Linked DNA regions of Homo sapiens. The protein of the gene in region 1 purifies or fractionates together with the protein of each later gene. This does not show direct contact. Each region holds a gene or a part of one and is shown in the gene's direction. Other genes may lie near its edges.

The links.
Region 2: the proteins of TAF3 (region 1) and SAP130 purify together in Homo sapiens (affinity purification with western blotting, with the first as the bait; one study listed by BioGRID). This does not show direct contact.
Region 3: the proteins of TAF3 (region 1) and TBPL2 purify together in Homo sapiens (affinity purification with western blotting; one study listed by BioGRID). This does not show direct contact.
Region 4: the proteins of TAF3 (region 1) and NAP1L4 fractionate together in Homo sapiens (co-fractionation; one large-scale study listed by BioGRID). This does not show direct contact.

What each region holds. Positions count from the first base shown.
Region 1 is NC_000010.11:8,007,005-8,010,504, forward strand, and holds part of TAF3 (transcription initiation factor TFIID subunit 3), read left to right. Parts: intron 1-2,073; coding exon 2,074-2,326; intron 2,327-3,500. UniProt on the Homo sapiens protein: The TFIID basal transcription factor complex plays a major role in the initiation of RNA polymerase II (Pol II)-dependent transcription.
Region 2 is NC_000002.12:127,986,484-127,990,072, reverse strand, and holds part of SAP130 (histone deacetylase complex subunit SAP130), read left to right. Parts: intron 1-206; coding exon 207-509; intron 510-3,110; coding exon 3,111-3,288; intron 3,289-3,589. UniProt on the Homo sapiens protein: Acts as a transcriptional repressor. May function in the assembly and/or enzymatic activity of the mSin3A corepressor complex or in mediating interactions between the complex and other regulatory complexes.
Region 3 is NC_000014.9:55,437,750-55,441,887, reverse strand, and holds the start of TBPL2 (TATA box-binding protein-like 2), read left to right. Parts: upstream 1-1,271; 5' UTR 1,272-1,438; coding exon 1,439-1,492; intron 1,493-3,551; exon of another isoform or gene 3,552-3,946; intron 3,947-4,138. UniProt on the Homo sapiens protein: Transcription factor required in complex with TAF3 for the differentiation of myoblasts into myocytes. The complex replaces TFIID at specific promoters at an early stage in the differentiation process.
Region 4 is NC_000011.10:2,954,327-2,957,915, reverse strand, and holds part of NAP1L4 (nucleosome assembly protein 1-like 4), read left to right. Parts: intron 1-2,149; coding exon 2,150-2,172; intron 2,173-3,269; coding exon 3,270-3,389; intron 3,390-3,589. UniProt on the Homo sapiens protein: Acts as a histone chaperone in nucleosome assembly.

The sequences.
Region 1 (3,500 bases):
GCTGGCAATTCCTGGTGAGGTGAGGATGGCCATATTCCATGGCCCAGAAACTTCATTTCTAGGGATGGGGCTTGGAGAAGTCCTTGAACAGTTCTATTTATGAGTCAGTGTGTAAGTTTACAAGTGAATGTCTCCTACTTTCAGTAGGATGATGGACAAAAACCTTTGGCTTACTAATACCATGGAATACAATATAGTAATTAGAATAAATAATATAGATCTCTATGTGTCAGCATGGATAAATCAGGAGACATAAAACTAAGTGGGAAAAGCTAGTTGCAGAGGACAACTGGAGTGTGACATTGTGTGTATAAAAGTTAAAAGACAGCAAACAGTAATGCAGTATGTATTGTTTATGGACACCTACAAAGGCAGGAAAGGTACAGAGAAAAAAACAAAGTACCAAGAACAATAAACAAAAACATACCTGTCTTAGGGCAGTGGTTGCTCTGGGGCAGGGAAGGAAGTTCATCTGAAACAAATATGGCAAAGGCTAACATATTTTATCTCTGATTATTACCTAACTGTCTGTTATATTGTTTTCTCTGTGTGTGAAATTATATATATATATATATATATATATATATATATATATATATATATATACCTTTTTTTTTTAATAAAGAAGCTTAAAAACAAGCTTTGGAATCAAGTAGACTTTGGTTCAAAAGCTGCCACCCGTTTACTCAAATTCCTTTCTCTTGCTGATCTTCAGTTTCCTCATCTACAAAATGGGGTAATCATTACTTCTTTGATGTTCTCATAAGGACTGGATGAGATGATGTTTGTAAAGTGCCTAGTATAACCTCTAACTTCTTATAGGTCCTCAATAAATAGTGCTTTTTATAATAAATTGAGTAATCCAAGGCCACAGGTCTAGTCTCTGGCGGCTGTAGAATTTGAACTCAGATGTCCTGGCCCCAAGTCCAGAGCTGCTTCCACTGGCGAGAGTTGTGTGAAGAGGATGCTGTTAGTGGAGGAGCAGGGTCACAGTACCACAGCTCTAGCGACCTGCGGCAGCATCACCAGGACAGAAGCTGCCGCTGCATTACCTCCTCCTTACCTCTGCAGCCCGTCTGGGAACAATCTTTTTTTTTTTTTTTTTTTTTTGAGACGAAGTCTCACTCTGTAGCCCAAGCTAGAGTGCAGTGGCGAGATCTCGGCTCACTGTAACCTCTGCCTCCTGGGTTCAAGCGATTCTCCTGCCTCAGCCTCCTGAGTAGCTGGAATTACAGGTGCACGCCACTGCACCCGGCTAATTTTTTGTATTTTTTAGTAGAGACGGTGTTTCACCATGTTGGCCAGGCTGGTCTTGAACTCTCGACCTCAGGTAATCCACCCACCTCGGCCTCCCAGAGTGCTAGGATTACAGGGGTGAGCCACCTTGCCCAGCCTGAACGGTCAATCTTTAAAACCTGGCAATCAAAGCCAAACCCAGAAGTGAGAAAGTCTTCACAGTTTTATTGACAATGGCATTGAGAGTATTAAGAAGAAACATTGGAATTAAGAAGAGAGAAATAGAAACTTTTTCTTTTTAAGCTGCTCTGTCCAGCAGCTTAGGCCAGGTTAGGTTTATGGTAATTAACAACCCAAAAATCTCAAGGGCTTCCAACAGCAAATGTGTCTTTCTTGCCCATCTCCAGTGTGGAGCACAGGCTGCTCCAGGTCCTCTCCAGCTGGAGCCACAGTGGAAGGAGCAGCCCCTGTCAGGCCCCCCCGAGGACTCAGCAGAGGTGGGGGTGGGGAGCGCCACCTCTGAAGCCGTCAGAGCTTCTGCCCCAGCACAGGAACAGGCAATTGAAGTCATATTTCTGTGAACAATGCATGTGTATTGGTTGCTAGAAATTTCTAACTGTCTGGCCATTGAGGGGAAGTTTGGAAAATGAAAAATTCGTCTGAGTAAGTGGAGAGGCCACTTCATGCAGGGCCTGGAACTCAGTTCTTGAGCTGCCTCTAGACGTTGAAGTATTTCGCTACTGGAAGAAAAGCTATTTTACGATCATGTTTTTAAGCACGGGTTTGGTTCGATGATGATCCTGTTTTGACTTTTACCTTCTCTTCTTTTGTTGACAGTGTCATCAGCAAGGTGGTCCCTGCCCCCGAGGCCAAGCCGGCGCCCTCGCAGAACAGGCCGAAGACCCCACCGCCGGCCCCCGCGCCCGCCCCCGGCCCCATGCTCGTCAGCCCTGCGCCCGTGCCGCTGCCGCTGCTCGCCCAGGCCGCCGCGGGCCCTGCCCTGCTGCCCTCCCCGGGTCCCGCCGCCTCCGGGGCCAGTGCCAAAGCCCCCGTGCGCAGCGTGGTGACTGAGACGGTCAGCACCTACGTGGTGCGTACCTGCCGCCCGCGCGGTTAGCATGGAGACGTTTTCAGATCGAGACAAGTGTGTGCTCTGAATCACTATCGAATTTCAGACGCATTTCTCTTCAAAATTTTATTATTTACTTAATTATTTTTGAGACAGGGTCTCCCTGTGTGGCTCAGGCTGGAGTACAGTGGCCCAATCATAGCTCACTGCAACCTCAAACTCCTGGGCCCAAGCGATCCTCCTGCATTAGCTTCTCAAAGTGGTGGGGTTACAGGCCTGAGCCACTGCCCCTGGCCAGACACGTTTCTTTTTTTTTCTTTTTTTTTTTTGAGACAGAGTTTCGCTCTTATTGCCCAACCTGGAATGCGGTGGTGAGATCTCAGCTCACTGCAACCTCCACCTCCCAGGTTCAAGCGATTCTCCTGCCTCAGCCTCCTGAGTAGCTGGGATTACAGGCACGTGCCACCACACCTGGCCAATTTTTTGTATTTTTAGTAGAAACGGTTTCACCGTGTTAGCCAGGCTGGTCTCAAACTCCTGACCTAAGGTGATCCACCCGCCTCGGCCTCCCAAAGTGTGGGATTACAGGCATGAGCCACCGTGCCCGGCTTTTTTTTTTTGAAAGGGGATTTCACTCTGTCACCGAGGCTGGAGTGCAGTGGTACGATCTCGGCTCACTGCAGCCCCTGCCTCCCAGGCTCAAGCGATCCTCCCACCTCTTGAGTAGCTGGGATCACAGGCAGTCACCACCACTCTCGATTAGTTTTTTGTATTTTTGGTGGAGACAGGGTTTCACTATGTTGCCCAGGCTGGTCTTGAGCTCCTGAGCTCCAGCAATCCACCCATTTCTGCCTCCCAACGTGCTGAGATGACAGGCATGAACAACCATGCCCAGCCAAGATGCATTTCTTCATTGCAGTTTTTCACTGCATTTTCAAGCTTTTGGCTGAAAAGTTACATCACAATGTTCACATAGTCAGCCTCCATAAATCATATCAAAGCTTGTTTTTATATTGTTTTGGGATATGACTATATGCATATATACAGTAATATCAATCTGTAAATGTAGAGACGCATGGTGGTACTGAAATCTCACATTGAATTTCTTGATCAAGCAATTCAGTTATTCACTTAAGAGTATAATTTATAGAATGTACACTGATATTATGAGCCAGGTAGTGTTTCTGAATAATAG
Region 2 (3,589 bases), on another chromosome or scaffold:
AACATCATATTGGTAGGAAGTGAAAGGAAATAACAATCCCAAGTATAGTAAGTTTCAAGTAACAATGTTTATTTATTTATTTTTTTTCAAACCATGGATTTAGATCTTATACAGTGGAGGAAATCCGTTTTTAGTGTTTCTCTCTTTATGTGGACTGTGTGAAATGAAGCTAACCTTCTTATAGTTACCTTTCGCATCATTTTTAGTTTCAGCTCAGGCTCCAAACTCTGCCATCACAGCTCAGACTGGTGTTGGGGTAGCGTCTACCGTCCACCTAAACCCCATGCAGTTGATGACAGTGGATGCATCGCATGCTCGACATATTCAAGGGATCCAGCCAGCACCCATCAGTACCCAGGGTATCCAGCCGGCCCCCATTGGGACCCCAGGGATACAGCCTGCACCACTTGGCACACAGGGAATTCACTCAGCAACCCCAATCAACACACAAGGGCTTCAGCCTGCACCTATGGGTACTCAGCAGCCTCAGCCTGAAGGAAAGACTTCAGGTAATTTTAAATTTTTGCATAGAAGGTGGTTTGGAGAAAAGAAATACATTTGGGTTTAAATCCTTTCTCTGCCACTGGCTTTGTCGTCTTATAATTTCTCTAGGCCTTTTCTTCTTTGTATTAATAATATGAGTTGCTTAGAACTTAGAGTTTCAGGGTCACTGTAAACGTTAGAAATAATATACCTCACTGTAATCCCAGCACTTTGGGAGGCTGAGGCGGGTGGATCACGAGGTCAGGAGATCAAGACTATCCAGGCTAACGTGGTAAAACCCTGTCTACTAAAAATACAAAAAAATTAGCCAGGCGTGGTGGCGGGGGCCTGTAGTCCTAGCTACTCGGGAGGCTGAGGCGAGAGAATGGCGTGAACTGGGGATGTGGAGCTTGCAGTGAGCCGAGATCACGCCACTGCACTCCAGCCTGGGCCACAGAGTGAGACTCTGTCTCCAAAAAAAAAAAAAGATACAGTATACATCAACAGCCCTAGTATTCATTTGAACATAATGAGAAGTGTTATCTTTTTTAAAAGCTCCTAGTTGTGGGAAAAAATTCACCTTATAAGTAGTATTCTCATTGAAGATTTTCTTCAGAGTTGTACATAAAGCTGTAAAACCTTATGCTGATGTTAGCTAATATTATGAATTCTTAAAAAGAAATACTAGTGGAATAACATTTTGAAAAATGGAATAAGTCACTGTATTTAGATCTTTTTGAGACAGATTCTCACTCTGTCACCCAGGCTAGAGTGCAGTGGTGTGTGATCTTGGCTCACCACAGCCTCATCCTCCTGGGCTCAAGTGATCCTCCCACCTCAGCCGCCTGAGTAACTGGGACTATAGGTGCAAGCTACCATGCCTGGCTAATTTTTGTATTTTTAATAGAGACAGAGTTTTGCCATGTTGCCCAGGCTGGTCTCAAACTCCTGGGCTCAAGTAGTCTACTCACTTTGGCCTCACAAAGTGCTGGGATTACAAGCATGAGTCATTACACCAGCTAGGTTATTTTTTTTTTGGCTGAATTTAAGATTCCATGTACTTGGATTATTATTGATTAGCCATTTCTCTAATGTAGTTTAAAAAAACAAAATGGCTGTTTCTCAGCCAAGGCACTGATTTTTTTTTTTTTTTTTTTTTTAAAAAGACAAGGTCTCACTCACTCTGTTGCCCAGCTGGAACACAGTGGTACAATCATGGCTCACTGTAGCCTTGACCTTCTGGGCTCAAGCAGTCCTTATGCCTCAGACACCCGTGTAGCAAGGACTACAAGTGCATGCCACCACACCTGGGTAATTATTTTTGATTTTTTGTAGAAACAGGATATTGCTTGTTGCCCAGGCTGGTCTCGAACTCCAGAGTTCAAGCTATCCTTCAGCCTTGTCCTCCCAAAGTGCTGCGATTGCAGGCATCAGCCACTGTGCCTGGCTGGAGCTATGAATTTTAATTGTTCTGTAGACCTTGAATTCAACTATTTAATCAAAGTCTCTCTGATTTTTTATTACTAAACTAAATGTCTATGATAGAGATGCAATTTACCCATGATGACCCACCCGGTAGGATGGTGTACTACATATTTAAGGGCACCTGCCAGAAAACTCATGATATTAAGTTGACTCCTATGAAATTGCCATTTTTATAGGTCAAAAACTGTCAAACACAGGTATTTTCTGATTATGATCTCATGCTCACCAGTATTTTGATGCTAACTTTAAGTGTATAGTTAAAATATCTGTTAGTTGAATGTGTTTCTAAAGATAGACTGGGGAGGGTACCATTATTGAGGGTTGAGAGAGATTGGTATTTTACAAAAACTGAATGAGTACATTTCTTGAAGTGTACATTGGAGCATGCTATCAGGCTGGTAGATAGTGTTTTCTATTTGTGGCTCTTGTATTAAGCCTTTCTTGTCTGTCAGTTTTCTTATCTCTAAAATGGAAATTACAATGATGGTAAGAATTATATCAGTAAAAAATGTAAAGTAACTAGTAGAGTGAGAGACTATACTAGATACTATGTACTTTGTTCACCTTATCTCATTTATTAGTAACTGTGATTATAGAGCAAAGAAAAAATAATGGTATGGGCCAAGTGTGGTGGCTCACGCCTGTAATCCCAGCACTTTGGGAGGCCAAGGCAGGTGGATCACTTAAGGTCAGGAATTCGAGACTAGCCTGGCCAACACGGTGAAACCCCGTCTCTACTAAAAAATACAAAAATTATCCAGGTGTGGTGGTGCACGCCTGTAATCCCAGCTACTCTTGTGGTTAAGGCAGGAGAATCACTTGAACCTGGGAGGTGGAGGTTGCAGTGAGCTGAGATTGCACCACTGTATTCCAGCCTGGGCAAGAGAGCAAGACTCTCTTTCAAACAAAGAAAAAGAAAAAATAATGGTATGGATCATGCATCAGTAGACTTAGTAACTGCTCCCATTTAGCTATCTGCTCTTTGTCGGATGAACATTGTGCTCCTGTCCCTTATCAGTTTGAAATTGGACAGTTAGAACATGGATACCTAATTCTAGTGGTCTCATCATTTTTATTTATGTCTTCTATGGCATTTTGTTTCCCTCTCTTCAATGTTCTTTCCTGTTGCCTCTCTCCTGTAGCAGTGGTGTTGGCAGATGGAGCCACAATTGTGGCCAACCCTATTAGCAATCCATTCAGTGCTGCTCCAGCAGCAACAACCGTGGTGCAGACCCACAGCCAGAGTGCTAGCACCAACGCTCCCGCCCAGGGCTCATCGCCACGGCCAAGCATACTCCGGAAGAAACCTGCCACAGATGGGTGAGTAGACCTGGTAGTGCCGAATGACACCTCTGGTTCTGGATATAACTGGTATACATAATAGGCACTCTTATCTAATGCTGGTATCAAACTCATCTCTCATTTTCTGTGGTGTGTTAAAATTTCCTCCAAAACAACTTGACCACAGGATTATTCAGTAGAGCCTTACCCAGCTGAGACTGTAAGATCTTAACAAATCCTGGAGTCAGTGAGGTGTTAGTTTGTAAGCATCTGTTGCATACTGCTTTAATTCTCTCTAGTTCTGGAACTTCAATCATAGAACTTTTAAAGTAGTTTATAA
Region 3 (4,138 bases), on another chromosome or scaffold:
GGGAGACTGAGGCACAAGAATTGCTGGAACCTGGGAGGCGGAGGTTGCAGTGAGCCAAGATCTGCACTCCAGCCTGGGTGACAGAGCAGACTCTGTCTCAAAAAAAGAAAAGAAAAGAAAAAAGGTATCAATTATGTTTATAAAGTTGTTCTACACAGTTAAGCTCTTATGCAGGCACTGAAAATTAAAATAATGATTTCAGGAAAGAGAAACCCTCTCTGAATGTTTTGCGTTATTTTCGTGAGATTTCCTCAACCCTAACTGTGCAGCAACACACTGTTTTGTATGTGGCTTTAGACGGAACGCTCAGTGACTGGAGAAAAACCACGTGGGATTTGATGGTGAGAAGTAATGATAATGTAAAAATACTACACCTGACTAGGTAAGGTGACTCATTCCACTCACTCTGCTCAAGAGAAAAAAAACATCCCTGGCGGAATGCAGTGGCTCATGCCTGTAATCCCAGCATTTTGGGAGTCTGAGGCAGGAGGATGGCTTGAGACCAAGAGTCCAGGACCAGCCTAGGTAACATACCGAGACCTTGTCACTACTAAAAATAAAAATTATAAAAATAAAATTAGCCAGGCGTGGTGGCACCCGCCTGTAATTCCAACTGCTAGGGAGGCTGAGGCAGGAGCTTGAGTCCAGGAGGTCGAGGCTGCAGTGAGCTATGGTCGCCTGTCACCGCACTCCAGCCTTGGCGACAGGGTGGAAACCTAGTATTTAAGTTTCTTAGAAAAACGGCTGGGTGCAGTGGCTCACGCCTGTAATCCCAGCACTTTGGGAGGCCGAGGCGGGTGGATCACCTGAGGTCAGGAGTTTCAGACCAGCCTGACCAACAAGGTGAAACCAGTCTCTACTAAAAATACAAAAATTAGCAGGTCATGGTGGTGCGTACCTGTAATCACAGCTACTTGGGAGGCTGAGGCAGGAGAATAGCTTGAACCCGGGAGGCGGAGGTTGCAGTGAGCCAAGATGGCACTGGGCGAAAGAGTGGGATTCCATCTCAACAACAACAACAAAAAATCCCTTTTTTTTTCTCACTTTCCATGCACTTGCACCGAGAATTTCTCTCCTGGGAGCAAAGACCACATTGCGAGTATCGAAGGAAATCAAATCTGCAGGCCCAGGCCCTTCCCAGCTGCGGGCAGAGTGGGGTGACTGCCCCCAGGCGAGACGCCCCTCTCCGGCCCACCCCTAGCCCATCTCCGCTTCCCAGCGCCCATGGGCCGGTAGCTGGGTTCCGCATCCCGCTCCAAGCCCATCGCCCAACGCTTCTCTCGCGCCCTCTGCAGGAACCTGGGCCGAGGGCCGCCCCGCCTCGCTGCCCCCAGGCTCATAAATGGCCTCTGCGCCCTGGCCGGAGCGGGTTCCGAGGCTGCTCGCTCCGCGCTTACCCTCTTACCCGCCCCCACCCCCAACAGTGGGATTACGGTCCATGGAGCAGGAGGAGACCTACCTGGAGCTCTACCTGGACCAGTGCGCCGCTCAGGTGAGGCTGCCGCCACTGTCCCAGAGTCAGGACCCAAGTCCCGCCCGGTCCTGTGCCAAGGGCTTTGCCTTCGTTCCTCTTAAAACTCATAGCGACCATAAGAGGCGGGCTTGGTTTCCCAAGTCATTAAGTTGAAGGTTAGAAGCTTCGAAAAGTGAAATAATTTGACCAAGGTTGCCAAACAGAGCTCGAACTTCATCTAGCACGAATCCAGAACCGTTCACTCAGTTACCAGATTACATGGCCCTTCCCAGGTTGTTCTGGTTTTTGATTGATTGATTGATTGATTGATTGATTTTTCTCTGAGATGGAGTCTCGCCCAGGCTGGAGTGCAGTGGCGCGATCTCAGCTCACTGCAACCTCCGCCTCCTGGGTTCAAGCGATTCTCGTGCCTCAGCCTCCCGTGTAGCTGGGATTTCAGGCACACGCACCACACCTGGCTAATTTTTTTTTTTTTTTTTTTTTGAGACAGAGTCTCGCTCTGTCACCCAGGCTGGAGTGCAGTGGCGCGATCTCGGCTCACTGCAAGCTCTGCCTCCCAGGTTCACGCCATTCTCCTACCTCAGCCTCCCGAGTAGCTGGGACTACAGGAGCCCGCCACTACGCCCGGCTAATTTTTTTGTATTTTTAGTAGAGACAGTGTTTCACCGTGTTAGCCAGGATGGTCTCGATCTCCTGACCTCGTGATCCACCCGCCTTGGCCTCCCAAAGTGCTGGGATTACAGGCGTGAGCCACCATGCCCGGCTAATTTTTGTATTTTTTAGTAGAGACGGGGGGGGGTTTGCTTTTCTCCCCAGGCTGGTGTTGAACTCTTGACCTCAAGTCATCCCACCCACCTTGGCCTCCCGAAGTGCTGGGATTTCAGGCGTGAGCCACCACTCCTGGCCCCCCGCCTGGTTCTAAAGGACATGCACAGAGAGTGCATTGTGCTAGCTGTAGTGACTTCAGGTTCCCACGGGTTTCTGCTTTGACAGGGGAAACAGAGAGCCCCTGTCCCCTGCAGCATGGATGCCAGTACTAGGCCTCCCTCTAGAAGTCAAGTCTCTGGTGGAGCTGGTGGTTGCAGGGTTTGCCAAATGTCAACTAGAAACACCTGTGGCTTTTTTTTTTTTTTTTAAAGTTAATTACTCTTAAGACTTAAAAATCCTTAGCATTGGGCAGGGTGAGGTGGCTCACGCCTGTAATCCCAGCACTTTGGGAGGCCGAGGCACGTGGCTCATTTGAGGTCAGGAGTTCAAGACCAGCCTGGCCAACATGGCGAAACTTCGCCTCTGCTAAAAAATACAAAAATTAGCTGGGCGTGGTGGCAGGAGCCTGTAGTCCCAGCTACTCGGGAGGCTGAGGCAGGAGAATTGCTTGCATCCAGGAGGAAGAGGTTGCAGTGAGCCGAGATGGTGCCACTGCACTCCAGCCTGGGCGACAGAGTGAGACTCCGTCTCAAAAAAAAAAAAAGGCAAGAGAGCAACTTACTTTTTTTTTTTTTTTTTTGGTGGGAGAATTTTTTTATAAAGACAATGATCAGCACTGAGGTAGAAATGGTGACTTTCCCTAGCATTTAACACAGCAAAGAAGAGCCCAGACAGGAAAGGTTCTGAGAAAGGTAAGTGGATACAGTTTAACAAAAATGACTAAAGATTCTGAAGCCAAGGATGCAGTGAACGTGCTACACAGACATGTTCTGAGGAGAGTCACTACAGGCAGACCCTGCAGGGAGCCGGTCAAGTTTCCATTACCATAAAACATCCTCCTTCAAATCCTCGCCATTGCCTTACATTCTTGTGTACGTGTAGCTTTGTTCCCTGATAAAATGCCATGATGGGGAAGGGGAAGGGGAAGGGAGACACTGACTGTTGCAGCTTTGGTGCTTTAGCGTAAATTGCGGGAGGAGACCCTTTACATCTGGGACAGGTGAGACCAAGGAAACCCTGCAGTGGAATTGGGGCCCATTGTCCCCATCTCACTTTTCTTAGGCCACTCTGTGGGTTGAGGGTGGGGAAAGATGGGAGCGTATCATGTATTCATAATGAAATAGAGGTCAAAAATCTTATTTCAAGAGAATAGCTTGATTTTGTTTTTAATTCTAAGTGCTTTCTTTAAACAATTAGTCACCCCTGCCACCTGCTGGACTTGTAGTAACAGAACACTCCAATAGGCTCCAGTCAGACGTACATTAGCGGAGGTAGCATTGTCACTGAGAAGATGCAACACGGTGCATTCCTGACCCTTCAGTGGTCAGAAAAGAAATAAGATCTTTTTGAGTTTCTCCTGCAAGCAGTGCTCAAAATCTGGAGTCCAGGCCCGTAACTTGAGTGAAGCAGGTGGTAATGCATTTATCAAGCTAATCGATTTTTTCCCATAATAAAGTCCATGAATTTTACATTAGTTGCTTTCCTCAGGTGCACACATCATTCTCTCCGTTGCTGGATAATGGTAGTTGAGCAGCCTTCCCTGGACTGAAAATAAATTGATTTACACTATTCTTACCATTTAAGTTTCAATAACTTTTTTCCTAGTGTAAATTCTTCTAACTAGAACATTACAAGAATTCTTATTACGCCTTTGCCTAGAAGGAATAACCATGGGTCTTTAGTGAGTCTTGATTAGCATTCAACTATATCTTAAACTTCCTTCATTTATTCTATTTA
Region 4 (3,589 bases), on another chromosome or scaffold:
CTTTTGGATCATCTGCTTAGTCCCCCTTTTCTTGTAATTTTTTATGCATAATTTGATAGAATTTTTTGGAATTTATATATTGTAAGAAACACAAGTAGTTGGGACTTTCATTTTTGAAAAACATCGGCAGAATCACAGCTTGGAAGCTGCTTCTTTTTGTTTATTTATTTATTTTTTAAATTTTCCTAAGTGGTAAAATAAAGATGAGACCTTTGAGCTAGTAAAGGTTGACCAATTGATTTTAAGAGTAAATTTCTTGGGATTTTTCATATAATTTCCTAATCGCGAGAAAATGTGAAGGTCAAGCAACTTGTCAGTGTTAAAATATCCATATTCTCTTTAGTTTCCATGAACTAAAACATAATTTGAAGTGAAGAGATGCCAGCCCCTGCTGCAGATAATCAGTGAGTGTTTGTTTGTATGTGGGGCCACAGGGCGGATCTCTTCTCCAGTCTGAGTGATTGATTTTTTGATTTTGTCTCTGAGCTTAGCACCCTTATTTATCAAGCTGCCCTTCAGAGTTCAGTCCATTATTTTAATTGTGGTGCCTATTTTCTGCAATTAGACTTTGAACCTAGAAGATGCAAATACATACGGTTTGGGGAATGAGAGCAGTCATAAATTTAGATATTACATTTCCTTTTTTTGGAAGATTCCTTTTAGACACTTGGGTTGGGCATACTGGAGATTGTCTGTGAATTCAGCGTGAAGAAGGGAGGCTTTAATTTCTGGAATCACTTTGTGTAGGAAGTTCTCTTAAAACTGATTTAAAAATAATTTTTAGGATAAAAATGGAGTTGATAATGGACTCAAGGGAATTTTTAAGTGTTTTTTTTTTTAGATTCTAAAACTTTTAGGGTATGATGGTTGCACAACTCTAAAATTAACGTACTGAAAGTCATAAAGTTGTACATTTAGAGTGTATGCCTTTTAATGGTATGTAAATCCCATCAGTAAAGCCACTTTTAAAGTAATCAAACACATAATACCAAATGGTAAGTGCTTTGAAAAAAATTGAGGATGGCTGCGGAATAGGTAATGGGGTAGTGAAGGAACAGACAAAATGGACTCCTGTGGTGTGAAGTGAAGGAGGCATTAGCTAGTGAGTCCAGCTCCTTTGTCCTTAAAACTGCAAAGCCAGTCCAGAAGTATGAGTGTTCAGAGTCCTTGTACTATTCATGACTTGGGCCAGAGTGCCCTGGGGAGCATGCTGCTCCAGCATTTAGACACCCAGCCATGCTCCTAACCCATGTCTAAAACCCCTGGGTGATGCTGGCACACCGAGGCTTGGGAACTCTGCCTCACTCATGGGTGGTGTTTACGCACCCAACATTCATGTCTCAGCAGCAAACAGCAAGTGCTGCCAGGGTTGTGGTCGCTTAATGGGAAGGGAGACTCAGAGAGGAGAGCCCAGTGAAGATTGAAAAGGCAGGTATGAGACTAAGCAGAGTAAACATTCAACTCCTGATGAAGCTCAGGGTCTTGTAGTAAATGTTTCTAAAATCAGGGGGTTGGATCTTCTACCAGTTGAACGTTGCACAGCTTCATTGAGTGTGGTTAGAAGTCCCTATCTGTCTTGGTGGGCTTAGCTCGTCTGAGCATCAGCTTTCGCTGAGGAATTGCGCCACTCTACAGGGGCCCCTGGTGGGCATTCCAGCACTCTCCAAACAAACAGAAATGCAGTTTCTGTCTCGCTGATTTGCAGTGCCTTAGTAACACTCACAGCTTATAAGGCTTAAGGACTTTCTCTTTCCTGCACCATCATGTATAGTTCTGCGGGACATGAGTTAAGTTTCCCCATAAAGCACAAATGCACTGAATGGCCACAGCCTGGGGGCTGTTTGCCATTCCTCCTGTTAATATATTAACTCTCTCAAAATGATCTTCTCAAGCTTGAGTGCCAGCCCATGGCACATGATGGAGGAGGAGAAGGGAGGGGGGCATAGAGGCACTCAGGCCAGCTTCAGAAGTGGTGGATGGAGCTTGCAAAGATGTCTGTGAGGAGATGCAAGGCTTTGGGGATTTCTGTTAAACCTCGAGGTGAGAAATGTTACATTTTATCTACCAGCACAGCTTCCTCCTGTGTGGGCTTTAAAATTCTGGGAGTTGTCACTGTAATTTAAATATGTTTTGTCTTTTCTTTTTCTAGCATCCGGGGATGGAGAATCACTGGTAAGATTTGTTGTTAATAGTCTTATTTTCCTGTTGAAGTCTCTCCTGAGTGAATGTCTACTTGTCTACTTGTTAAAAAAAGTCCAGTCCTGGCTGTGTGTGGACTGGGTATGCCAGTGATCTTAATGCTTTGGGAGGCTGAGGTGGGAGGACTGCACGAGTCCAGGAGTTTGAGACCAGCCTGGGCAACATAGCACAACCCCATCTCCACAAAAAATTAAAACCAAATAAATTAGCCAGCCGAACATGGTGGTTCACGCCCGTAATACCAGCACTGTGGGAGGCCAAGGTGGGTGGATCACCAGAGGTCAGGAGTTCAAGACCAGTCTGGTCAACATGGTGAAACCCCGTTTCTGCTTAAAATACCAAAAAAAAAAAAAATTAGTTGGACACGGTGGCAGCGCCTGTAATCTCAGCTACTCAGGAGGCTCAAGCAGGAGAATCACTTGAACCCGAGAGGAGGAGGTTGCAGTGAGCTGAGATTGCACCACCGTATTCCATTGGGCGACAGAGCAAGACTCCGTCTCAAAAGATAAAATAATAAATTAGCTGGACATGGTGGTGCACTGTGTAGTTCCAGGGTCGCTGGGGCCCAGGAGCTTGAGGCTGGAGTGAGCTGTGATTGCACCACTGCCCTCCAACCTGGGTGATAGAATAAGACCCTGTCTCTTAAAAAAAAAAAATCCATTTCTGTTTCCTAAAACTCTGGGATTAATTTGAAATCATTACACATCTAAGTAAAAGTATGTGTTTCATATGTTGATTTCAGTAGCAAATGTGCAGTGCTTTAATACTGCCTGTTTCCCATATGTGAGACTGATACCGCCTACTCTGGGTGAGACCTTTGGACAAGTTGTGGAGCTGTAGGGCCCTCACTTCCCACTTTCTCTGCCATTTTGCTTCAGTAGCTCTTTAAAGCTACTTAAAGTTGTTTTAAAGGGGCTTTGAGTGTCTAGTGGCTGTCCCCCAGCAGTGCAGGAGTTTGGTGTTTTAAGTTAAGTAAATCAAAAGTGAGGGGCTGAGGTTTGGCTGAGGGTGGTGAAGTGAATGTTTTTATCCCATTAAAATGAGTTAACACGTAGGTTTTTCCTCCTCAGGATGAAGATTCTGAATTCACATTAGCCTCTGATTTTGAAATTGGACACTTTTTCCGTGAGCGGATAGTCCCGCGGGCTGTGCTGTACTTCACTGGGGAGGCCATAGAAGATGATGACAATGTATGAGGCTCGGGGAAGGGGGGCTTCCACCTGGGTGCTTATCTCTGTTGGTGCAGAGTGGCCCTGAATTGTGGCTTAGGAAACCCCCATGCCTAATCTTTTTATTACATCATCAGCCAGATATGTAGTCCAAGCTGCTGTCCTTGTTGTGGGGGGAATACGCTTGAAGAGGAGAAGTCTGAGGAACAGAGCAGGAAAAG